Linked DNA regions of Homo sapiens. The protein of the gene in region 6 purifies or fractionates together with the protein of the main gene of each other region. This does not show direct contact. Each region holds a gene or a part of one and is shown on either strand. Other genes may lie near its edges. The genes, in order: ART5, ITGA4, ECE1, LMLN, SEL1L3, RLN1 and SUSD1.

Evidence for each region.
Region 1: the proteins of RLN1 (region 6) and ART5 purify together in Homo sapiens (affinity purification with mass spectrometry; one large-scale study listed by BioGRID and IntAct). This does not show direct contact.
Region 2: the proteins of RLN1 (region 6) and ITGA4 purify together in Homo sapiens (affinity purification with mass spectrometry; one large-scale study listed by BioGRID and IntAct). This does not show direct contact.
Region 3: the proteins of RLN1 (region 6) and ECE1 purify together in Homo sapiens (affinity purification with mass spectrometry; one large-scale study listed by BioGRID and IntAct). This does not show direct contact.
Region 4: the proteins of RLN1 (region 6) and LMLN purify together in Homo sapiens (affinity purification with mass spectrometry; one large-scale study listed by BioGRID and IntAct). This does not show direct contact.
Region 5: the proteins of RLN1 (region 6) and SEL1L3 purify together in Homo sapiens (affinity purification with mass spectrometry; one large-scale study listed by BioGRID and IntAct). This does not show direct contact.
Region 7: the proteins of RLN1 (region 6) and SUSD1 purify together in Homo sapiens (affinity purification with mass spectrometry; one large-scale study listed by BioGRID and IntAct). This does not show direct contact.

Annotation. Positions count from the first base shown.
Region 1 is NC_000011.10:3,639,193-3,643,378, reverse strand, and holds the start of ART5 (ecto-ADP-ribosyltransferase 5 isoform a precursor), read left to right. Parts: upstream 1-1,386; 5' UTR 1,387-1,516; coding exon 1,517-1,573; intron 1,574-3,007; coding exon 3,008-3,737; intron 3,738-4,186.
Region 2 is NC_000002.12:181,533,886-181,537,385, reverse strand, and holds part of ITGA4 (integrin alpha-4 isoform 1 preproprotein), read right to left. Parts: intron 3,115-3,500; coding exon 3,016-3,114; intron 2,571-3,015; coding exon 2,451-2,570; intron 1,955-2,450; coding exon 1,859-1,954; 3' UTR 1-1,858. UniProt on the Homo sapiens protein: Integrins alpha-4/beta-1 (VLA-4) and alpha-4/beta-7 are receptors for fibronectin. They recognize one or more domains within the alternatively spliced CS-1 and CS-5 regions of fibronectin. They are also receptors for VCAM1.
Region 3 is NC_000001.11:21,231,464-21,234,963, reverse strand, and holds part of ECE1 (endothelin-converting enzyme 1), read left to right. Parts: intron 1-1,302; coding exon 1,303-1,406; intron 1,407-3,500. UniProt on the Homo sapiens protein: Converts big endothelin-1 to endothelin-1.
Region 4 is NC_000003.12:197,970,217-197,973,716, forward strand, and holds part of LMLN (leishmanolysin-like peptidase isoform 1 precursor), read left to right. Parts: intron 1-3,500. UniProt on the Homo sapiens protein: Metalloprotease.
Region 5 is NC_000004.12:25,845,989-25,849,488, reverse strand, and holds part of SEL1L3 (protein sel-1 homolog 3), read left to right. Parts: intron 1-1,624; coding exon 1,625-2,195; intron 2,196-3,500.
Region 6 is NC_000009.12:5,337,077-5,341,116, reverse strand, and holds the start of RLN1 (prorelaxin H1 preproprotein), read left to right. Parts: upstream 1-1,240; 5' UTR 1,241-1,370; coding exon 1,371-1,581; intron 1,582-1,689; exon of another isoform or gene 1,690-1,754; coding exon of another isoform or gene 1,755-1,855; intron 1,856-4,040. UniProt on the Homo sapiens protein: Relaxin is an ovarian hormone that acts with estrogen to produce dilatation of the birth canal in many mammals. May be involved in remodeling of connective tissues during pregnancy, promoting growth of pubic ligaments and ripening of the cervix.
Region 7 is NC_000009.12:112,043,291-112,046,297, forward strand, and holds part of SUSD1 (sushi domain-containing protein 1 isoform 2 precursor), read right to left. Parts: intron 1-3,007.

The DNA.
Region 1 (4,186 bases), on a different chromosome or scaffold from region 6:
CGCCCGGCTAATCTTTGTTGGCCAGGCTGGTCCCGAACTCCTGACCTCGTGATCCTCCCACTTCAGCCTCCCAAAGTGCTGGGATTACAGGCGGGAGCCACTGCGCCCTGCCCTGGAGCTGTTTTTCTAACAAGCACTCAGAAGCACCTCCCTCCCCACCCTCCTCCAAGCCTGGACCCACCGTATGTCTTCCCGTTTGGTCTACAGAAAGGATTCTGGGAGATAGCAGGATTCTAGGTGGAGGAAACTTTTTATTTGGCTGACACTCTGAGGGGATGGGGGGACAGGGATGGGGAAAATTAATGAGCCAGACCAGGATGGATTCCTTTGGGTAGCTCTAATCTTTCGTGCCCACCTCAGCCCCAGCAGGCAGCATTTCTCAAATCCTAGCTTTCGGCGACCCTCCGGCCGCTGGGGGAAGGAGGGGTGACAACCCCACCTCCTCCTGGCTCTGGCTGCTAGGAAGCTCTTCCCTGAGTTACCAATTCCTCCGCTGGCCCCTTCTCCCATGACCTCTGACGGGGCATCCAAAACTCAGAGCCAGGTTATTTATAGATAAGCCCAGAGGAGGTGGGGGAAAGGCCAGTGTTTACAAACATGGGTCACCTGAGTCTGAGCGGCCACGAGAGCGGTCTGGGGGAGGGGCGAGACCGGACCCTGTGGATCTGCGACCAAGGGCTCTGTCTCTGGCCCAACCCCACTGAAGGCGAATGGGGAGAGGGCCCAGAGCAGGCAGGGAGTGGGCGCTGCTCAGATGCTGGAGCACGTGGCCCAGGGTGTGGGCCAAATGCAAACTGTATGCAAATCGCAGTGCTCCGGGGGCGACCTCTCGGCCGGCGGGACCCCCGCGGGGCCCCTGGCCTGGTGGGCCGGGGACCAGGGGCCGACCGGGTCAGGGCCCGCCTGAGGGAGAGGCCGAGTCTCACAAGTTTCCTCCCCATCACTCACAGCCAAAGAGGGTCCCGCAGAAAGACCCCGCAGGCCTTGAGAAAGGGAATTGCTCCTCAGTCCCTGCCCTGGCGCGCCCGCTCCCGGCCCCGCGTGCGGCGCTGGGAAAGGGGTGTCGGGTTACCAGCGCGGGGGCTACAGTTAGCCTCGAGAACCTTTGCTTTCAGCCGGACTCCGGACTCCTCCGGGGACAGCGCAGCGCCCGCCAGAGCCCTCGGCGCTCCCTCCCGCTGGCGGCTTCCGCAGCCTTCAAGTGGGTCCTCCGCCCCCGGCCCTCCCCTCTCAGGCGGAGCCAAACTGCGGCCCCGCCTTTACAGTCTCGGAAAGGTCCCCAGACTGGAGGCTCTGAGGAAGGGGTGTGGGGAGTCGGGGGCGGAGACTTGGGGCGGGGGGCGGGCAATAAACTCCCAGGCCCCGCCCACGCCCCGCCGGGGCCCTAATCCTGGACCCGGGATCCCGTGCGCCTGGAGACAGGGTCCAGATCTGCCTCCAGCCCCTCGAAACCAGGACTCCAGCACCTCTGGTCCCGCCCTCACCCGGACCCCTGGCCCTCACGTCTCCTCCAGGGATGGCGCTGGCGGCTTTGATGATCGCCCTCGGCAGCCTCGGCCTCCACACCTGGCAGGTAACTCCAGGAACCATCTCCTAGCCCCAAGGGGGACATTAAGGGACAGACCCTGAGGAAGTGGACCCGGGGCTGACTCCTCACATCCCTCTCCCAGGGACTCTTCCCTAGGATTCCACTCTTAACTCTCTTCCTCTCAGGAACCTCCATCTCTGCAGGGAGCCCCAAGTTCCCATTCTGTCTCCTAGAACCCCCATCTCCATCCCTCTCTGGATGCCTCCAACGTTCTCCTCCCCACCTCTCATCTCCCAGCGCAGGCACAGCCCGGCAAAGCCTCCTTGGGTTACCTGTGTGCTGCAGTCCTGGCAGCCCGTCCCAACCAAGGCTTGGCCTCCCCACCACCCCTACCCCAAATGTGGGTACAGAGCAGGGGAGGACTCAGGCGTCTCAGAGCTCACAGTGATTTGGTGTGGTGGCTGAGCACCTACCTGCAAGGGCTTCCTGCTGGATGAGAGGGAAAGAGAGCCCGAGGAGAATGGGGCTGGGGGTTAGGCAGCTGGACACTGGCTGTGTGTAATATTTGCACATCACCTGCCTGCCAGATCTTACAGCCGGAAAAGTGCTTGATAGTCATCTAGTCCCACCTCCCACCGACTGCAAGAACCTTTCTAATGACAGGATGACCCCTTTTAGGTTGTACAGAAGTAATGCTCTTTATGCTGTCTTCATAATAACTGTGAGGTTGGAAGTATCCTCAAGTCCAGAAAAGTTATGACACTTGCCCAAGGCCTCACAGCTAATAGGTGGTAAAGTCAAGATTTCAGCCTGCGCGCGGTGGCTCACTCCTGTAATCCCAGCACTTTGGGAGGCTGAGGCTGGTGGATCACTTGAGGTCAGGAGTTCGAGACCAGCCTGACCAACATGGTGAAACCCTGTCTCTACTAAAAATACAAAAAATTAGCTGGGCGTGGTATTGCGCACCTGTAATCCTAGCTACTTGGGAGGCTGAGAGAGGAGAATTGCTTGAACCCGGGAGGCAGAGGTTGCAGTGAGCCAAGATCGTGCCATTGTACTCCGGCCTGGGCAACAGAGCGAGACTTCGTCTCAAAGAAACAAACACAAAAACAAATTAGCCAGGCATGGTGGCATGCACAGGTAATCCCAGTTAGTTGGGAGGCTGAGGTGGGAGAATCACTCCAACCTGGGAGGTGGCGCTTGCAGTGAGCCGAGATCTCACCACTGCACTCCAGCCTGGGCAACAGAGCAAGACTCCATCAAAAAAAAAAAAAAAAAAAAAAGATTTCAGTCCATGTCTGACTGACTCCAGTGCCTGTGTTATTTAAGCCTCTTATTGGGCCCTTGCCAAATTGCATATACCTGATATTTAGGGATAGAAATGAGATTCTGTGTTTCTGGATGGGTTTGCCCCCAGGACCCATGTCCAGTGCTCTGAACTTATGCTCTTTTCGGTGTGGCACCTCTTTTGCTCCACAGGCCCAGGCTGTTCCCATCCTGCCCCTGGGCCTGGCTCCAGACACCTTTGACGATACCTATGTGGGTTGTGCAGAGGAGATGGAGGAGAAGGCAGCCCCCCTGCTAAAGGAGGAAATGGCCCACCATGCCCTGCTGCGGGAATCCTGGGAGGCAGCCCAGGAGACCTGGGAGGACAAGCGTCGAGGGCTTACCTTGCCCCCTGGCTTCAAAGCCCAGAATGGAATAGCCATTATGGTCTACACCAACTCATCGAACACCTTGTACTGGGAGTTGAATCAGGCCGTGCGGACGGGCGGAGGCTCCCGGGAGCTCTACATGAGGCACTTTCCCTTCAAGGCCCTGCATTTCTACCTGATCCGGGCCCTGCAGCTGCTGCGAGGCAGTGGGGGCTGCAGCAGGGGACCTGGGGAGGTGGTGTTCCGAGGTGTGGGCAGCCTTCGCTTTGAACCCAAGAGGCTGGGAGACTCTGTCCGCTTGGGCCAGTTTGCCTCCAGCTCCCTGGATAAGGCAGTGGCCCACAGATTTGGTAATGCCACCCTCTTCTCTCTAACAACTTGCTTTGGGGCCCCTATACAGGCCTTCTCTGTCTTTCCCAAGGAGCGCGAGGTGCTGATTCCCCCCCATGAAGTCTTTTTGGTTACCAGATTCTCTCAGGATGGAGCCCAGAGCTTGGTGACTCTCTGGAGCTATAATCAGACCTGTAGCCATTTTAACTGCGCCTATCTGGGTGGTAAGCTGTGCATGGGGGAAGCAGGACTGGCAGTGTGGGTGAAATAAGCCAGGATGTCCTTACACAATAATCCCCGGGGCCTTCGGGAGACCCACTTGGTTAAAGGGGAAATGAGGGCTGGAAGTCAGCTGGAGTTGCTGTCCTCTGTGACTCAGGTTTTTTGGGGTCCTATAAGTGTTTTCTAGATTCGTGAACATTCTTAGATGATTCTATATGTCCTCAAAAGGGTCCATCTGCTACATGGTCTAATAGACCAAAAGAACCTGGTTAAGGAGATTAGCAAGCAGCAGAAAGAGCCAAGGGGACTGCTTCAGGTCTCAGGGGGGCCCTGGGCTCGATGGGGCTGACAGGGCACGTATGTGCCATTCCCAAGTGCTAAGGCAGGGAGAGATGGAAGAGTGACTGGGTCTTGGGTGGGAAGAGGGATGGAAAGGCAATCTGGAAAGAGT
Region 2 (3,500 bases), on a different chromosome or scaffold from region 6:
AGCCCAATATGTAATTGTGTTCCCCTTGTATCTGAGAGGCCTGTGTTGGACAACCATAGTACTCTGCTTTCACTGTGCTCAGATAACCTGAAATATATAGTTGTTTCTGAGTAGTTCTGAGTAGGAAAGAACCAAATGTAAATTTCCTTAGAGACCATCCTGGAGAAGACAGTTCTAAATCGGGGCTTGATTTTTCATCTATGATCCTAGATGTTCTCCTGAAAGAATGACTAGCCTTTTTATAACGATACAAAGTTTTTTAAAAATACATAAATGTCATAAAGTTTATTCCTGTGTATACACACTCTGGGTTCAGGAGGTTTTGTGCTTACATTTCACTACTCAAATGCCTTCGCAAATCTCAGAACATTCCTCACCATCACTGCAGGCCTGTGAACAGATAACTTTCATCAATTAGGATGGCTGGCTAGTGGCAGGGACTTCATATAAAGAAATCTTTCCCAGAATTGTTTTTCCACATTGCCTTCTAATTTGATCACTCCCTATAACAGATGTTCAAAATTCGGCCACAGCTCTCTTATGAAGGCAGAGTCAGATAAAATGATATTCTGCAATTATCTAGATCATAAGCATAAAATAAATATTACAAAAATGATTGTATTTAAAGAAATTTTTTAAAATCCAGAAAGTCATTTAAAATAGAACCTCATATAGTATGAACAAACTATAAAAATATTTTACATTTCATGAAAATTTTGCTGTCGTCTCATTTATATTCACTGTATACAAATTGAATCAGTATCTTTCAGCTAAATTTATGAATTTAAATTTATGAATTTTGTTTCTTCGTTTCCATGTAAGGTAACACTTATACTTGTAAAGGGTAACAAAGAATTACATCCAAGGAAATAGTTGTGTGATAGTCAATATTTTACATAGTACATAATACATATGAAGTATAGGCCCCCTAGTCTTTGCACAGCTTTGATTTTAAAGTTATTAGTGAGGTATGGTTTCTGTATTTTCTAAATCAGCGTGTATCAGGTAAAGTGCAACACTCACAATCTTTTGTTTCAGAATATAACAAAAGATTTGAAGATTACTCCTGGGTATGCTTGATAAAGGTGTGTTATAGGAAGAATAGATAGGAAGAATGGTAAATATATACCTACATAAAAACACATGTATATATACAGAAAGAAAGATGGTGAAATCCATAATTATAAAAAAATAATTATCCAGAAGTAATTTCACTAAGCTCAAACCAGTGTACATGTTCAGTCTGAAGTTTGCCAGTTTGGCCTATAATACTATAATATTCATAGTCTGCTGAAAAAAAATGGTTGTTGGAACACAGCCCGTAGGAAATGTATTATAAATAAAGGGCTTTAAAGTGATAATGGTCCACTCGTTAGAAAATTTGGGAACAGCTCTCTAAAAAATTATATTTTTAAAGAACATATTTTGAACAAGTATCAAAGATGTATTTGAAATGAACCTCTGCCCACCCAGTGGGGTTCATTTTACTGAGGCAAGCACATATGGTAAGTAGTATTTCAAGTCTAAGACTTCTCCAGTATAATTTAACTCAGTTATACTTTCATTTCAAGATATCTTCAAGGGCTTACTTTTCTTGAATAAATTGAATGCTTTAGTGTTTCTCTACCCATTTAAAAGCTGAGAGATTATCTTTGGCTGTATTATTACCTTTGCAGTTCTTCTATCTCAAAGAGTAATCATTGCTGAGATTTTCCCCTTGCATGAAGACATAATATGTCACAAGATCATGAGTAAAAGAAGTCCAAACAAAATTCATTTTTTCTTGTAAACAGTGTCTTTTAAATTTCTTTACTACAACCTGAGTCTGTTTTCCATTCTCTCAATTTGAAAGAAGTCCTTAATCATCATTGCTTTTACTGTTGATATAACTCCAACTGTCTCTTCTGTTTTCTTCTTGTAGGATAGATTTGTATTGTCTTTTAAAGAAGCCAGCCTGAAAATAGCATAACATAATCACTAGTGTATAGTTATGAACACTCTCTTATCTACTATACTCATTTCTAATATCTAAGCAGTTAACACCAATATTTCTTAAACTGCATCCCTTGTAACATCAGTCATAAAGGTTTAACAGAGGTAATCAGTAAAAATTAGTGGGGACATACTGGGTTAAAGAAACATTTTTGTTTTTAATGCAGAAATTCTCAGTGATACACACCACATTCTCTCCAAAATTGACATTCCGTGTAATTTGCAATCTTTTCCAAATGGTTTTTTAAAAGGAACGTCTGTCTTTCAAAACAAATTAAGAATGCATATTTTTCTAGAAAGACTTTGGTGTTGAAGAGAAATGTGAGATCAGTACTGAGCAACATAAAAAGTTAACATTCAAATAGTGAAATATTTAAATCTAATAACTTGGAAGTCAAATTGGCTTTGAGAAAATGTCATTTTTAGTAGACTAATGTTGGTAATTGTTAAATGCTTACCTTCCACATAACATATGAGATCAATAGAAGTACAATAAGTCCAAGTAGCAAGCTACTTGAAATAATCACTATGGTGAAATAACGTTTGGGTCTTTGATGATGTAGTCCTTCCAGTAGAACCTACGTGAGTTAAGAAAAATAAAACTCAAAAACCAAAAAAAAAAATCAGTTTAAAACGTTGCTTATATTTCCTTTAAAGCCCTGCCATAATCCCCAGTAGTATTTAGAACTGCCCAGCCCATTTTCTTGCTGGTTCTAATATAATTGCAGGAAACACTGGTAACTGTTTAGCAGAAACAGTGAGTGTAATGGGCTGTATCCATGACTTTTCCTCCAATCTATTCAATTCTCACTGCTGCCCAATTCACCTCTCTGAAAGAACTGCTGTATTGTTCCCTCCTGCCAGTTGTGGAAAATGCCAACTCTCAACCAAGTATTGGGGGCCCTCCATGAGCTGGTCACACTCTACTTTCCCAACTCAGTTACTCAGAAGGAAGTAATTATAGACACCCTTGAAATGTGTTTTCCTATAATTTTAATGTAGCAGTTAAGAGGGTAATCTTACATGCGCAACATTCTCATCCTTGTTTAGTTCAATTACTCTTGGATTTGGCTCTGGAAAACCTGTTGCTCTTATTTCAAACTTGAGTGCTGAAGTCTCATCCTGTTTAATAAAAGAAGGATCACCATAGCCTGGTTTATTTCATAAAGACATAATTTATCAGGATCTTTACCTTCTAGCTAGAGGTTTTCACAATTTACCTTCCCCAATTTATTTCACCACTTAAAATTAACTGCAGTGCCTCCTTTGGTTCCCAAAGTGTGGTCTTGGTATTAATTTATATAGTATCATTTTATTGAAATCCTTTGATTAAACAGCTACCTTGCAAATAACTTGATTTAAATATTAGACTACAGAAAGAGGTAAGTTACCATTTACCATTGTTCTCCACCCCACCACCGCATATTGAATCTATCTTATTTGGGCTTTTTATTTCTTTCTAAATTAAATACATTATAGAATTCAAATATAAAATCAGTGGATGAACT
Region 3 (3,500 bases), on a different chromosome or scaffold from region 6:
CTGAGATCATGAGACTCATTCTGCTGCCTTTTCCTTGAGAATCATTTAAGATGCTCCAGAGTGTCATGACGCAAGATCCTTGGGCCTCTGGAGGCATCCTGGGCAGAGCCCAGGATCCATGTCCTGTCCCTGAGGCTCCAGCGTTTCACCAGAACCAGGGAGAATTTTGCACCTGTCAAGAGCTGAGCCAGGCGCAGTGGCTCATGCTTGTAATGCCAACACTTTGGGTGGCTGAGGTGGGGGGATTGATTGAGCTCAGGAGTTTAAGACCAGCCCGGGCAACATAGTGAGACCTCATCTCTACAAAAAATGTAAAGATTAGCTGGGCATGTTGGCATGTGCCTATAGTCCCAGCTACATGGGAGGCTGAGATGGGAAGATCACTTATGCTCAAGAAGACAAGGCTGCAGCAAGCTGTGATTGCACCACTGCACTCCAGCGTGGGCGACAGAGCAAGACCCTGTCTCAAAAAAGCAGAAAAAAAGCTAGAAAGCTGGGCCGAGTAGTGAAAAGGGTGTACAGTGATGCCCTTGACAGTTCAGATAGATTTCTACTTTACTTATGAGATCTAGTATGGTAGCTACTAGCCACAGGTGGCTATTTAAATAATTAAAACTTAAATTAGTTTAAATTAAATTTAAAAGCCACACTTGCCACATTTGAAATGCTTATTAGTGGCCGGGCGTGGTGGCTCACGCCTGTAATCCCAGCACTTTGGGATGCCAAGGTGGGCTGATCACCTGAGGTCAGGAGTTTGAAACCAGCCTGGCCAATGTGGTGAAACCCCGTCTTTACTAAAAATACAAAAATTAGCTGGGCTTGGTGGCATGCGCCTGTAATCCCAGCTACTCTGGGAGGCTGAGGCACGAGAATCACTTAAACCAGGAGGTGGAGGTTGCAGTGAGCCAAGATCGTGCCATTGCACTCCAGCCTGGATGATAGATCAAGATTCCCGTCTCAAAAAAAAAAGAAAGAAAGAAATGCTTAGTAGTCTGCCATACTGGACAGCGCAGGCATAGAGCACAGAACATCCATCATCGCAGGAGGTTCTATTGGACAACATGGGAGATATTTCTTGCCTGGGCCCAGGCACTGCTGTAGGCACATCCTGCAACGGTGTCATTCCATCTCGTGCCCCAGGGTGAAGGCCAAGAGAAGAGCTGACCCTGCAGCCCCAAGCCCTGCATTCCGGTCTCCAGCCTGCAGATTAATCTCTTAACCATGACAGCCCTTGGCTTCCTGTCTTGGAAGATGCACACCACCGAGGGCACACTGTGATTGACTCCACTTCTTCTTTTCTAGTACACTGCAGTTCCAGACCTCTACTTTGAAAATGCCATGCGGTTTTTCAACTTCTCATGGAGGGTCACTGCCGATCAGCTCAGGAAAGCCCCCAACAGAGATCAGTGAGTTCCCCCAGGCCCTGCCGGCAAGGTGCCAGCTCCCCACCTGTGGGCAAGCCTTGGGACGAACTGGCCTTCATTGCACCCTCACTGTGCACCCGATCAGCTATCACGAGAGCCGTCTGAAGAGTGGATGCCCTTGTTATCCCACTTTTCAGATGAAGAAACCAAGGGCAAAAGAAGTATGGCCCAGCTAGGAGCTGGGATGGGCTTGAGCCTGCCCAGCCTGTTGGCAGGGTGAGCCTGGCCTCTGGAGCGGAGCCGATCTGGCACCTTGTCTCCGCTCCACTGCTTTGGGATTTGGAGCCTTCATTTCATTTTCCGCAGAATAGGATGGGAGGAGCTGGTTCTGGGGTCCTCATGGCAGTCAAATGTGAGGACCTCTGGGGAGCGCCAGACCCCAAGGAGGCCCCAGCAAGAGCAGCTTTCCCATTGTTCCTCACTACCACGAATGGTGGGATCTCAGGACAGGGAGCCCACAGAGGCCTGGGGAAGGTTCTGGATGGGCTTGACAGCTGTGCTTCCCAAAGCTCACTGCACATCAGAGTCCTCTGGGGAACTTTTTCAAAGATACAGCTTCCTGGCCGGGCGTGGTGGCTCACGCCTGTAATCCCAGCACTTTGGGAGGGCAAGACAGGTGGATCACCTGAACCCAGGAGTTTGAGACCAGCCATGGTCAACATGGCAAAACCCTGTCTCTACTAAAAATACAAAAATTAACCGGGTGTGGTGGCGCACACCTGTAGTCCCAGCTACTCAGGAGTGAGTAGCTGAGGCACGAGAATTGCTTGAACCCGGGAGGCGGAGGTTGCAGTGAGCCGAGATCGTGCCACTGCACTCCAGTCTGGGTGACAGAGCAAGACTCCATCTCAAAAAAAAAAAAAAAATACAGCTTCCTGACCTTAAATCAGGATAACCTAGAATGAGACCTGGTCTTTGTCCTTTTTATTACTGTCTCCTCAGGTCAATCACAGTAGCTCAGGCCTGCAATCCCAGCACTTTGCAGGCTGAGGTGGGCAGATCGCTTGAGCCTAAGACTTCAAGACCAGGTTGGGCGACATAGGGAGATGTGGTCTCTACAAAAAATTTTTAAAATTAGCTGGACGTGGTGGCACGAACCTGTAGTCCCAGCTACTGGGGAGGCAGAGGTGGGAGGATCACTAGAGCCCAGGAGGTCGAAGCTGCAGTGAGTCAAGATCATGCCACTGTACTCCAGCCTGGGCAACAGAGCGAGACCCTGCCTGAAAAAAAAGAAAGAAAGAAAAAAAAAAACTGTCTCCTCAAAAAAATTAGATGTAGTCAGCCCAGTTCCAGTCTTCAGTCCAAGGTCCTTCCATTCCTCAGTGCAAACATTTGGGATAAATCTTAGGGAAGGGTGCAATCAACTTCTCTTTGCCTCTGGTGCCCCCTGGTGGACTATAGGGGTTCAAACATCTCTATTTCCTTCATTTCCAGCCTCCAACCAGGACACCCCGCTATGTACAAGAAGGTGGGCTTTTACCTTCAGAACATGGCATAGGCTCTGTTGCCAGTTTATCTGAAGTATTTTAACTTAGCTTGAATGTTTTTATTTAAATTTCCTTGCCTACCCATTGAAGTATTTGTGATTATTTGAATATAAATATGATGTTTTAAATTCCTCCATATGGCCAGGTACAGCGGCCCACGCCTGTAATTCGAACGCTTTGAGAGGCCAAGGTGGGAGGATCTCTTGAGCTCAGAAGTTTGAGACCAGCCTGGGCAACATGGTGAAACCCCATCTCTACAAAAAATTTAAAAAATTAGCTGGACGTGGTAGCATGCGCTTGAGCCCAGGAGGTTGAGGTTGCGGTGAGCTACAGTTGTACCACTGCACTCCAGCCTGGGCTACAGAGCAAGACCCTGTCTCTAAAATAAATAAATACATAAATAGAGTTCTTGGCCAGGTACGGGGGCTCACACCGGTAATCCCAGTACTTTGGGAGGCCAAGGCGGGTAGATCACTTGAGGTCAGGAGTTCAAGACCAATCTGGCCAACATGGTGAAATCCCGTCTCTACTAAATATACAAAAATTAGCCACGCATGGTGGTAGACACCTGTAATCCCAGCTACTTGGG
Region 4 (3,500 bases), on a different chromosome or scaffold from region 6:
TTTTTGCTTTAAATATTTATTTGTCTCCAAAGAAATTAACAGAAGAAAAGAAGTGTGTATAATTGTGTTGAGGATTCCCAAGACCACTCCAGGTTTGGTGATTGCTAGGTGGCCTCGCTAGATTCAGCTTGTCGTCATACTCACAGCTGAGATTTATTACAGTGAAGGCATACAAAGTAAAATCAGCAAAGGGAAAAGGATCATGGGACAAAGACTAGAGGAAATTAGGCAAAAACTTCCAAGAGTCCTCTCCTAGTAGAGTCACTTAGGACCTGCTTAATTCCTTCAGCAGTGAGTTGTGACAGCGTGCACAAAGTGTGGTCTACCAGGGAAGATTACCTGATTCTTAGAGTCCAGGGTTTTTATTGGAGGCTGGTCACGTAGACAAAATTTCAGCCACTGAAATTTCAGACTCCAGAAGCAAGCAAATGTTCAACATAAACCATATTGTTTCTGCAAATAGTTTAGACACAATGAGCCATCCTTATAACCTAGTGAAGTTTTAAATTACACTTCTAGATGCCAGCAAAAGGTCAACCTTGCAAGCAGGACTTCCTACAGAGAGCAGCAATCTCTGACCTGCTGTGTTGACTCTTCTGCACAATAGTCTTTCATATCTATTCACGTATTTACCATTTCCAATAGCTTTTATTTCTTCCTACAGAAACAGGTTACCCTTTTGTGTTATTTCCATTCCCACGAATAACTTCTTTTAGCATTTCCTGTAGTGTAGGTCTGCTGGTGATCAGTTTTCTCAGATGTATGTGAAATGTCTTTATTTCCTCTTCATTTTTGAAGGGTACTTTCATTGGATATAGACTTCTGTGTTGAATTTCTTTATTTTAGCCCTTTCCTGTTTATTTCATTGTCTTCTGTTCTTTATTGTTCTTCACAGAAAGTCAATGCCATTCGTACTTCTCTTCCCTTCCTATGTATAATGTTGTATTAGTTCTCACACTGCTATAAAGATACTACCTGAGACTGGGTAATTTATAAAGGAAAGTGGTTTACAGTTCCACATGGCTGGGGAGGCCTCAGGAAACTTACAATCATGGTGGAAGATGAAGGAGAAGCAAGGACCTTCTTTACATGGTGGCAGGAGAGAGAAGTACAAGCAGGGGAAATGCCAGAGGCTTGCTTATAAAACCATCAGATCTTGTGAGAACTCACTATCATGAGAACAGCATGGGGAAACACCCCCATGATCCAGTCACCTCCTTCCCTTGACATGTGGGATTACAATTTAAGATGCAATTTGGCTGGGGATGCAGAGCCAAACCATATAAAATGTGTTGTTTTTCTCTCATTGCTTTCAATATTTTATCTTTATTTTTAGATGTCACAAGTTTGCCTATGATGTACCTGGTTGTTGTTTGTTTGTTTTTGGGGACAAAGTCTCACTCTGTTGCCCAGGCTGGAGTGCAGTGGCACGATCTTGGCTCACTGAAACCTCCGCCTCCCGGGTTCAAGTGATTCTCATGCCTCAGCTTCCTGAGGAGCTGGGATTACAGGCATGAACCACCACGCCCAGCCTTGTTTGTTTTTTATCCTGCTTGAGGTTTAGTGAACTTCTTGGATCTGTAAGTTGATGTCTTTCACCAAATTTGAAATTTTTTAGCTGTTATTTCTTTCAAATATATATTCTGTCTCATATTTTCTCCTGTCCTTATAGGACTCTAATTACCTATCTGCTAGACTGCTTGGTACCCATTCTCTGAGTCTCTGTTCTTTTTTTTTTTTTTTTTTTTTTTTAGTCTTTTTCATTTCTCTTCTTCGGATTGGATAATGTCTAGATCTATCTTCAAGTTCACTGATGCTTCTGCCATCTCCAATCTTCTTTTAATTCTTTCTAGTGAATTTTTTTTTTTGAGACTGTCTTGCTCTGTCACCCAGGCTGTAGGGTGATGGTGCAGTCTTGGCTCACTGCAACCACCGTCTCCCGAGTTCAAGCAGTTCTCCTGCCTCAGCCTCTGGAGTGCTGGGATTACAGGTGTGCACCACCACGCCTGGCTAATTTTTGTATTTTTAGTGGAGACAGGGTCTCACCATGTTGGCCAGGCTGGTCTGGAACTCCTGACCTCAAGTGATCCACCCACCTCAGCCTCCCAAAGTGCTGGGATTACAGGCATGAGCCACCGTGTCCGGCCCCAATGAATTTTTCATTTTAATTGTTATACTTTTAAGCTCTAGAATTTCCATTTGGCTCTTTTTTCTTTGGTTCTTTTCATAGTGTCTCTTCTGAGGTTCACTATCTGCTTACTCATTATGTGTATGTTTTCTTTTAAGTTCCTGAACACATTTCAGCTGCATTAAACTAGTTGTTTAAATTCAGGTCCTCTTAGGGTCTGTTTCTATTCCCTGCTTTTTCCCCCATTGTGGATCTCATTTTCCCATTTTGTTCTCATTGCTGCTGATTTTTTATTAAATAATGGACACCATAGATAATATATTGTAAAGTCTGGATTCTGTTGTATTTCTCTGAATAATTTTTTTTTTTTTGTAGCTGGCGTTTAACTTAACTGTATTCAAAATTCCAAACTCTTATCTCCTGTTGTTGGCAACATTTATTCTTTGCTGGGTTTTATCGCATACATATGTAATTTCGTTGTCAGCCAAGGAATTTAGTGGTCAGTCAAATATTTGACTGGGTTTCATATGCAGATTTTGGGGTACCTTCTGTGGCTTCTTCTCTTGCAAGATTTCCTCTCTAACTTCTAATTTTCTGGTGATACAAGTTCTGAACATTTTGCTGTAGCTCCTCAAGCCAGTGAGGCTCTGACTTCCTGCCACTCCAAGAGACACAGATTAGGTAGTGCTCTCAAGCCAAAGTTAGACTTGCAAATCTCAGAGATACAATTCCTGTATTCCAAGAGTAGATTCTTCCAGATTCTGTCTTTCTCCCTCCCCAAAATACTGTCAGACAGTATATTTTGTCCGGACTTTGTAATGTGTTATCTGTGGGGAGGTTAGTCATGTAATGGATTGCTAAAATGTACCATATCCATTTGCTGTGCTCAGACATTTCTGATTTTTTTTTTTTTTTGAGACGGAGTCTTGCTCTGTTGCCCAGGCTGGAGTGCAGTGACAAAATCTCGGCTCACTGCAAGCTCCACCTCCTGGGTTCTAGCAATTCTCCTGCCTCACCCTCCCAAGTAGCTGGGACTACAGGCGCCTGCCACCATGCCCGGCTAATTTTTTTGTATTTTTAGTAGAGATGGGGTTTCACCATGTTAGCCAGGATGGTCTCAGTCTCCTGACCTTGTGATCTGCCTGCCTCGGCCTCCCAAAGTCCCAAAGTGCTGGGATTACAGGCGTGAGCCACCGTGTCTGGCCTCTGATGGTTTTTTAAGGGCCATAAAATAATCTGTTACCTGGAGATAGGTTGGAATGGAATGAGTAAAATACTGGAAGTAGGGTGTCAGGCCATCATAGCAGAGCAGGCAATACGTATTGTGAAAATCTGTGACTGTTACTATGTTATATTAATAGATCAAACGTAG
Region 5 (3,500 bases), on a different chromosome or scaffold from region 6:
TGTGAGTTTGACTACTCTAGGTGCTTCATGTAGGCGGATGATATAATGTCTGTTCTCTTGTGTCTAGCTTGTTTTCCTTAGCCTCATCTCCTCAAAGTTCATCCATTTTACAGCATACATCAGAATTTCATTCCCTTTTATGGGCTGAATAATATTCCATCCCATGTATATACCACATTTTTTCTACCCATTCATCCATGGATGGACCCTTGGGGTTGCTTTTGGCTAGCGTGAGTAATGCTGTTATGAACACGGGTGTACAAACATCTCTTCAAGTCCTTGCTTTAAATTTTTGGGGTGTATATCCAGAAGTGGAATTGCTGGGTCTGATCATACCATAATTCTTTTTTGAGATGGAGTCTCACTCTGTTGCCCAGGGTGGAGTGCAGTGGTGTGATCTTGGCTCACTGCAACCTCCACCTCCCGGGTTCAAGTGATTCTCCTGCCTCAGCCTCCCAAGGAGCTGGAATTACAGGTGTGCACCACCTTGCCCAACTGATTTTTGTATTATTAGTAAAGACAGGGTTTCACCATGTTGACCAGGCTGGTCTTGAACTCCTGACCTCAAGTGATCCACCCACCTGGGCCTCCCAAAGTTATGGGATTGAAGGCATGAGCCACCACGCCCAGTCTGATCATATGATAATTCTGTGTCTAATTTATTTGAGGAACTGCTATACTATTTTCCATAGTAGCCACACCATTTTACATTCTCATTAAGAGTGCATAAGGGTTCCAGTTTCTCCACATCTTCACCAACACTTGTTATTTTCTCTCTGTGTGTATGCGTTGTGTGTGTTTAATAATAGCCACCCTAATGGATATGCAGTGGTCCAAAGTGACCTTTTTCTATTGTGTTTTGGATACTTGAATCACAAAGTCATATTTAGGAGAGCTCTTAGCACTCACATATCAGCACCTCATGCTCAAAACCTTGCATTGATTTCATGACCAGATAAATAAACATTCAGCTAAAATCCTTCTTGGTGCATGTAGCATTGTCTGTGGTGAAAGAATCAGACAACACAGCCCATCGTCTGAGCTTACTTGTGTGTGACCAGGAGCAATAGAAGCCTCTTGCCTGTCCATATATCATGCAGGCTTGCCCTGGCTTCAAACTTATGGGAGAAAAAGGGGCCAGGTTGGCATCCCTGTTATGTTCCCTCGAGGGTGCACTTTTCACTTTTCTGCCACCCTTTGATTTGGTAGTGTCTGACCCACCATTTAAAGTCAGGACAATGGTTTGAAAATGTCTGAAGCTGCATTGTCTCTGTTTTATTCTAAGGCAGGTTCCCTTGCTACTGGATTTGTTGTGAACCAACTTCTGCCTTTGAAAACCAACTCTGGAATTATTGCCATGTAGATGTGACAGTCACATTCTGATCAGCAGATGTTACTGTGTCTGGGGAGAGAGTTTAATGTGGCCTCATCTTCCTTTGTATTTGTGTGTTGGTTTTTCCCCAATTCTTCAGTAGTGGTTTTGACATCTTTTATCTCCCGCATTCATTCATTGCTTTATGTAGATTGATATTTTTTTATCCCAGGAAAATAATGATTCAAGTATCTGTTATGATGAGGATTTTTAAACTTTCTGTATTTCTTACTTTCTTTTTCTTTTTTTCAGAATGTTGTACCATCTTTGGGTAGGCAGACTTCCCTGACGACATCAGTGATACCCAAAGCTGAGCAGAGCGTGGCTTACAAAGACTTTATTTATTTTACTGTCTTTGAAGGAAACGTTCGCAACGTTTCTGAAGTCTCGGTTGAGTATTTATGCTCTCAGCCTTGTGTTGTCAATTTGGAAGCAGTTGTTTCATCTGAGTTCAGAAGTAGCATTCCCGTGTACAAAAAAAGGTGGAAGAATGAGAAACATCTTCACACCAGCAGGACACAAATAGTACATGTGAAATTTCCAAGCATTATGGTTTACAGAGATGATTATTTCATCAGACATTCCATCTCTGTATCTGCAGTGATAGTACGCGCCTGGATTACTCACAAATACAGTGGCAGAGACTGGAATGTTAAATGGGAGGAAAACTTGCTCCATGCTGTAGCAAAGAATTATACCCTCCTGCAGACCATCCCGCCTTTTGAACGCCCTTTCAAAGATCATCAAGTGTGCCTTGAGTGGAACATGGGTTATATTTGGAACCTTCGGGCAAACAGGATTCCACAGTGTCCTCTGGAAAATGGTAGGTCATCTATCTTGCTAGGAACCTAATTCTCATTTTTTCAGATAGCCTGTATCATGATCGAATGGCAAGAGAAAATTCTTCTATTAGCGAAGGGGGATACAGGGAAGATGGAGGGACACAATGAGTCTGTAACTTTGGAGTTTGAAGACAAAAGGAGAAAAATTAAAAGGGGAAGAGAGGAGAAAGATTAGGAGAGAGCAGGACCAAAGATGAAAGAACAGAACAGAGGAGCTGAGGAAGGTGGACTTTGAGAGGGTTAGATCTGCTTTAAGCTGGAAAGGAGTATTCATGCCACCGAAACAAGGATTGGGAAAATCTTCCCACTCACCTTCCAACAAGCCTGCTAAAGTTTCCTCTTTTTTTTTTTTTTTTTTTTTTGAGATGGAGTCTTGTTCTGTTGCCCAGGCTGGAGTGCAGTGGCGAGATCTCACTCGGCTCACTGCAACCTCCGCCTCCCAGGTTCAAGCAATTCTCCTGCCTCAGCCTCCCGAGTAGCTGGGATTACAGGCACCCACCACCATGCCAGGCTAATTTTTGTATTTTTAGTAGAGATGGGGTTTCACCATGTTGGCCAGGCTGGTCTCAAACTCCTGACCTCAGGCGATCTGCCTGCCTTAGCCTCCCAAAATGCTGGGATTACAGGTGTGAGCCACCATGCCGGGGCCTCTATTATTTTTAAGCAGAGTGTTTTATCCTGGAGGAGATGAGAACCTAAAGGAACCCTTCCAACAGAAAGGGAGGTTGTACCACAGAATGGTAACCTCTGGCTGGGCCTGATTCCTGTCCTGCCACTTTCTATCTCTGTAACCTTGGAAGTCTCTGAGCCTCAGTTTTCCTATCTGTAAAATGGGGATAACAAGCAGTTCCTTCAGAGCAGTGCTGTGAGGACTAAATGAGATGTGATTGCTCAGCACATCATCAGCACTCAGTGAGAAGCTGTGATGATGATAGAGTCCACACTCTGCATTTTATCCTAAATGCCACATGGTCACAGCCTCAGCAGGACCAATCCCGGAGGCTCCAAGGCCCTTCTGCAGCCTCCCTTAAGCCGTGGGGCTGGAGATCTCAGGCATGTGCTGAGAGGCGGCACTCTGAAGTTCTCTCCATTGGTGCAAGGAGCGCCTTGCTCTGTGGATGCCGAGTGCCTGCCAGCTCTTCTTCTGCCCCCTCAGTGGGGAGCCCTCCCCACACATGCGCCCAGTTGTTTCCTCAACTGTGGCCCTAGGACCACCTGTGACAGAATCACAAATGCTTGTTGCAAATGCAAATTCCTAGGCCCAGTCCTTCATCTACTTAGTCAGG
Region 6 (4,040 bases):
TTCTCAAACTGTGTGTTTTAGTGAAAATCCATTTAAAATCATTAATTGCCTCTAACCATCTCATAGCTTTGGTCAGGTATTTTTTGAAGAATTACACATTGCTTGGCATTTGACCAATGTTAAGTGGGCCTACTGAAATCACCAGCAATCTAGAAATTAGAATTACTTGATTCCATAGTTATGTTTGTAACTAAGAGATTGTTATTATTTTATTTCAAAGCTACCATAACGTCCTGCATGTCTCCAGTTTATCTGATGGAGCTGAACTAATCTGAGTATATTATGAACACAAGCAAGTAAGTTATTTTTAAAAATGAACCTATTTGTACTAAAAATTTACAGGTAGAAGGGTCGTCTACTAACCATATTATCTAGAACTGTGTGGATCTTTAAAATGCTAAATTAGGTGGTGGTAATAAAAAAAGAATCACCTCTAACCAGGTGCAGCAAACACAAAATACAGTAAACAAATGAACATATCCTTGTGCTGTAATTTGTTATCAAAATATTATTTCTGGGAATGTGGGATGTCCACTGCTTTTTTTCCCCTTCTTCTTTCTCTTCTTCTTTTCTCTCTCTCTTTCTCTCTCTCTGTGTGTGTGGTGTGTTCTCCAGTCTCCAGAGACATAGACTAGAATTTTAAATTAAAATATTTAGACAACTAGTTACAATCAAACTTCTCCCACAGGAGTGGAAGGAAAGTCCAATGGAGAAATTGTTTTGTAAATTAAAGACATTACTGCACAAGCCTAAAATGATGTTACTGGGGATTTTAATCTTTTTACCTGGATTCAGATTAAAAGTCATCAGTTTTCCCTCTCATCAACAATTTATTCATTCATCCATTATATTTTTATGGATTGATATGCCCAACATTATACTAATTAATCCAATTTATAAGGTAATCTATAATCCTATTTAGGTTAGAAGGGTTTTTGGCAAATGTTCACTCTGGAAAACTGGGTTGTAAGAATATTGGCGATCTCAATTTTATTTCTGTGTATGTAAAAAGAAAGGCTTCATATCTAAAATAACTTTACCTAAGTATACAAAGTTGTTTCAGGGTAACAAAAGAGCGAAAAACAAAACTGTAAAAGGGCCAAGGACAGAGGAATGGGCAAATGAAGGAAGGGCGGAGAGGCAGAACAAGAGCTGAAGGAGAAAATTCTGTGGAGGGGTGTGGGAAAGGGGTGGAGCTGGCAACCTTGCCTTAAAAGCTGAGTGATAGCCCATACTAAAGACTGGTTGAGCCGGGTAGGGAAAGCAGCCTAAAGCCCGGGACAGGCACACAGGCCCAGGTGTGTAGGCCACAGCAGCCGCAGTCCTGAAAGGCTGCAACACCCAGACCTCCAGGAGAGACCAGGCCCAGGATGCCTCGCCTGTTCTTGTTCCACCTGCTAGAATTCTGTTTACTACTGAACCAATTTTCCAGAGCAGTCGCGGCCAAATGGAAGGACGATGTTATTAAATTATGCGGCCGCGAATTAGTTCGCGCGCAGATTGCCATTTGCGGCATGAGCACCTGGAGCAAAAGGTCTCTGAGCCAGGAAGATGCTCCTCAGACACCTAGACCAGTGGCAGGTGAGAGCTCCCGCCCCCTCCCGGCCTTCCCGCGCTTCCCATTGGTTACTCTGGGGCGGCCGCCCAATTGGAACGGCGGCCTGCACGTCCGACTCGAGATCTCATTGGCTGCCACCGCTCAGCCCCTACTCAGCCGTGGCTGGTCCCTAAAGTTTGGGCTTTTCCTTTGCCAGGTGATTTTATTCAAACAGTCTCACTGGGAATCTCACCGGACGGAGGGAAAGCACTGAGAACAGGAAGCTGCTTCACCCGAGAGTTCCTTGGTGCCCTTTCCGTAAGGCAGTCAGAGCGACGGGGTGGAAAGGGAGGGGAAGCCTCAGAGGAGGTGACGCCGCCCGGAGACCCGCAGGAGGCCGGGCGCACTCCTGCACCCCACAGGAAAGCCAGGCGGCCAGACAGCGGGCGTGCTGGTGGGGGCACCTGAACAGGGCTTCTCGGATAGAGAGGAGAGGGGACAAACACTGAGGCGGCGCGCTAGTTATCAAGCCTGTTTGCGCGCCTGTAGGACGGGGCAACACTCTGAGGTCTCTGTGAGGGTCCCGTGATGGGAAGACAGGAAGGGCCTTACACTTAATGACTCTCCTAGTCCAGAAGTTGGGCTGTGGCCTTTGCCATTGGAAACGTTCTTTAAAATAAACAAACAGAAAATCCCAAAGGAAAGAGTCTGACCTCCCGCTTCTTTGATCTGGGTATTGAAGTTCATTTGTGAGGCAGGGGATGGAAGAGAAAGGAAAGGCTTGAATGCCTTTAGGAGAAACTCAAGAGGACCAGAGACAAGGAAAGCAGGCCGTTCAGACCATCATAGCTGAAGACCCTACTGATGCTTTCAAGCATTTGGAAGCTGCAGTGGGTTTGCTTTAAAGGCAAGCTCTTAGAGTTGAGTACAGCTCAATCTGAAATGGCTTTTAAAAATATTTTAGTATTTATAAAGTAGCAGTGGAAACTCATGGAGGTATATACTAGTCTAAGAAGTGTAACGGGTCATATTAAATTCAGAGAAAGTAACCGCAGTTGCAAATACTAAGTGTTTTGTATTAGTATGACATGTAATTTATGATAAACCGCAACTAAATTTTATAGGCTATATGCATATACTATATATAAATGACTCTAACAGAAATACATTTACTTCTCTTTTATGAGATTTAAAGTATGCTTCTAAAGTTATTTACTTTTCTACATTGTTAGAGTTTGATTTATTTAATGGCAGTTTTTACATGACTTTTGTATAACATTAGTACAAAAATACCACAACGTCTAGGAATTTAGTGATAAAAAGTAGAGAAGACCGGATTGCATTGCATTTGCTTTATTATTCCACATTTTCTGACTATAAAAGTAGTAATGCTCATATTAAAGACAAATGTACATTAATGCAGCGTGAAAAATGAGAAGCACTCGTAGATATTAAGGACTTTGAAAAGTATATGTGAATTTTATGAGAAAATGAAATTATATTAAACAAGTAAGTGGAAAGAAATGTTAACATTTGGATAGGTATATGTATATATCTTTTGCATTTTCACTCACCATTATACTTTGAGCAGTTTCTCACATTGTTATTATCCCAAAACATAATTTGAAATTCCTGTGTAGTATTTTTGTCATAAATCTGCCACATAAACTTAAAGATTCTTTGGTGGATATTTAGTTTATTTCTAAATTGTTGCTGAAAATCATTAATCACATTTGTATATAGATATTTAGCTACACTTTTATTTCTTTAGAAGAGACATGAGATTTCAAAGTATTTTTAAAGAATTTTCTTTATTGCTATGCAGTATAATTTAACTGAAAGTAACCTCAGAAAATATTGCCTGCACGTGGGATTAAGATAAATGTTTACCGTTACTAGGTAGGAATCGCTTTGGAAGTACATGTCAGTAATTTGTGATTAATATGAGTTTTCAGACTTATACTGTTAGGTAATTGCTACTTGCTTTCACGTTATTACACTGTTAGATAACCATTTTATCTTACAATGTGTGCCAAAGTAATATTCACTGCATCCCTTTTAAAAATAAGATCCGCTTTAAACCAGAGATCTATTTCAGTAAGATTTGCATCCAAAATACAGTGAATTAAGGGTATTTGCATGAATTCAGACAGAATATTTTCTCTGAGCCTAGGTTCCATAGCTAAAAGTGTTATGGATTATGAAATATTTCAAAACAGGTTTAAAAATATAATTTTAATAAAAGTTCAAAACACACAGCCTATGAATAAACTGAATACAATCTATAACTGTTTTGGCTGATTCATTTAACTGGCTTTAAGTATACAGAAAATTACCATCAGCTTTTTTCAGCATTTAATAAGACTGCAACTACAGACAGTTTAGGTTGGAGCACAGAGACGTTTTTATGAGGAAATTGAATTAAACTTAGGATGTCTTAATGAGGGAAAATGCCAAAACCTGTCATTTAACCAAAAATGATATAAATTCTCATCTGTCATTT
Region 7 (3,007 bases), about 110 Mb from region 6:
GATATTTTCCAGACCCTGCACTCCATGGATCGGCTGGCATCACCCAGATCCATAAACTGGTTCATCTGATCTTGTGGCCCCCAACCAGAAATTGACTCAGTGCAAGAGGACAGCTTCGACTCTGTGATTTCATCTCCAACCCAACCAATCAGCACTTCTGACTCACTGACCCCCCCATCCCCTACCCCCTACCCACTAAGTAATCCTTAAAAACCCCATCCCTGAATTTTCAGGGAGACTGATTTGAGTAATAATAAAACTCCAGTCTCCCATACAGTTGGCTCTGTGTGAATTAAGCTCTTTATTGCAATTCCTCTGTCTTGATAAATCAGCTCTGTCTAGGCAGCAGGCAAGGAAAACTCATTGGGCGGTTACTAATTCTCAAAAAATGCTGCCAAGAGCCTTTCTAGAAAACATGGCTTATATTATTTGGTTGCTTTTAGTCTATAGAAGAAAAATGGCCTTGACACTTTAAGAAGCTAGATTACTTATTTTGTTTTATTTTATTTTTATTTATTATTATTTTTTGAGACAGAGTCTTGCTCTGTCACCCAGGCTGGAGTGCAGTGGCATGATCTCGGCTCACTGCAACCTCCACCTCCCGGATTCAAGCGATTCTCCTGCCCCAGTCTCCCTAGTAGCTGGGACTACAGGTGTACTCCACCACGCCCGGCTAGTTTTTGTATTTTAGTAGAGACAGGGCTTCACCATGTTGGCCAGGCTGGTCTCGAACTCTTGACCTCAGGCGATCTGCCCATCTTGGCCTCCCAAAGTGCTAGAATTATAGGCATGAGCCACCATGCCCAGCCAAGAAACTAGATTATAAAATGGAAGGAGAAACAGTGATTAAGTGAAGAATTAGTAAAGAAAAAATATTAGGAGAGTGACTTGAATTGCAAGACAGTAAAACAGTGCAGTATTAGAATAGGAATGAATACATTGGAACAAAATAGCCTAGAAACAAATCCAAGCATATCAAATACTTTCAAAGTTTGAATACTGGAGTCAGATGTCCAAGTCTTTATCTGAACACCACCACTGCCTGTGTGACTTTGTGCAAGTTATTCATCCATTCTGTGTCTCAGTCCCCACACTGAGGGATGCTGTAATAACATGGGAATGATAGCAATACTACCCACCTCTAGGTAGTGGGAGAAGTCAGTGAGTTAGTACAGGTTGAAACAGTGCCTGGCACAGAATAAGCAATAAGCAAATGTTAGCTATTGTTAATTATTATTGTTTTTGTTGTTTTGATACTGTTTCAGATCATTGGGGAAATGATAAATTTTTCATAACCAGTGCTGAGAAAATTGGCTAACCATTTAGAATCAAATAATTTTGATCACTAGAGCTTACACCATATATCAAAATAAAATCCAGATGGATTACAGACTTAAATTGAAACCTAAAAGGATTAGGAAATGTTAGTGAATATTTACCTAATATTAAAGGGGGTAAGAAATTTCTAAGCATATTCGTTAACACAGAAACCTTAAGAGAATGAGAGATTTAACCACTTTAAAAAGCATGCACTTCTTATACCAAAAACTACCATAAGCAAGATTAAAAGGCAAATGGCAAGCTGGATAAAATATCTAGAATAATGGGCAAGAAGTTAACATACAGAGAGTGTTACAGATTAATAAAGACATACCTCAATAGCGAAATGAGAAAATTCTACGAAAAGGTAAATCACATGAAAAACATGATTACAGATGATCAATAAAACTTTGAGCAAATGCTCTCTTACAAGTAATAAAAATGCAAATTAAGGCATTAAGATGCCATCTTTGTGCATGACTCAGAAACATTTTTTTAAATGCCATCTTGGTGGACTAATTAACTAGATTTGTTTTGTTTTGTTTTGTTTTTAAGAGAAAATACAATTCTGGAGATGAACGGGGGAGCTGGTACTTTACTGCACTGGCATTTCATCCGATCTACCCAGTATTCCTTCCAACTTCTGACATCAAGTTTTTTTCTGTGTATTTTTTCCTCTACACTTTAACCCTCTGTATATTTTAATCACTGATTGATGAATATGTTGAACTGAAGATGACTGTGGACAGAAATCCATATCATGCATATTCTTGGGTTTGATTTCAACTCATCAATAATTGTTAATGAGTTGATATCAACTGTGCATAGCCATTCAGCTTGTTTCTAAGCCCACATACAGCTCTCATGTCCCCACATTGTCCACAAGGACATTATTGTTATTATGCGTGCCATATTTCCCTGACCAATTACTGACTCTGTGCAAGAAGAAATGGAAAGCAATCTGACCTAATCTGCTCTTAAAGCTCCTGACTCCCGGGAACTGCTGTTTTTTCTACCAGGGATACACAAGCCATCACTTGAAGACCTTGCTTTGCCTTGACTTCAAGTTACCATCATCTACACTTCTGGTGGTTCTTCCTTTGTACAAAGTTCCTTGTTCTTTGCTCATCTCTAGTCCTCTTACATCTCTCCATTTTCTTCAAGGTTTATTGAAGATCATTTGCAATGGTTTATCCATCTCATGTGAAAATTGTATGAACCTGCCAGAATACGCTACATCCATGTTGGAAGACTTGAACCTATGTAGGGTAGCAAGCTCTTTTCTTTCTTCTAACTATCCCCTCACAAACGAAGAGGACAAAAGCTAAGTAGGAGTTAAGGAAGCTGACTTTCACTTGACCATCCACCAGCAGGATCTACCTGGGCACAACTATTCCTTACTCTAGACATAGTATTGGAAAATGATCTTTATTTATTCTGCATAGCACAATTTGGGTTTGGCTCCAGGAATGATTCTTGCTGGTAGATCAGTTCCTGGTTATATGTCTTTTTGTCTACTTTGCATATATACTCTAAAAATCTGAGTCAATCTAATCAAGAGTGCTCACAAGTGTTGCCACACAAGCTTCTTTAGAGACTTTCCTCATTAATTCCTTAATAAGAAAATTTACAACTGGCAAATTTGAATTGTATTTTTTATAGCCTCACCATCCTTTGGTTACCCTAC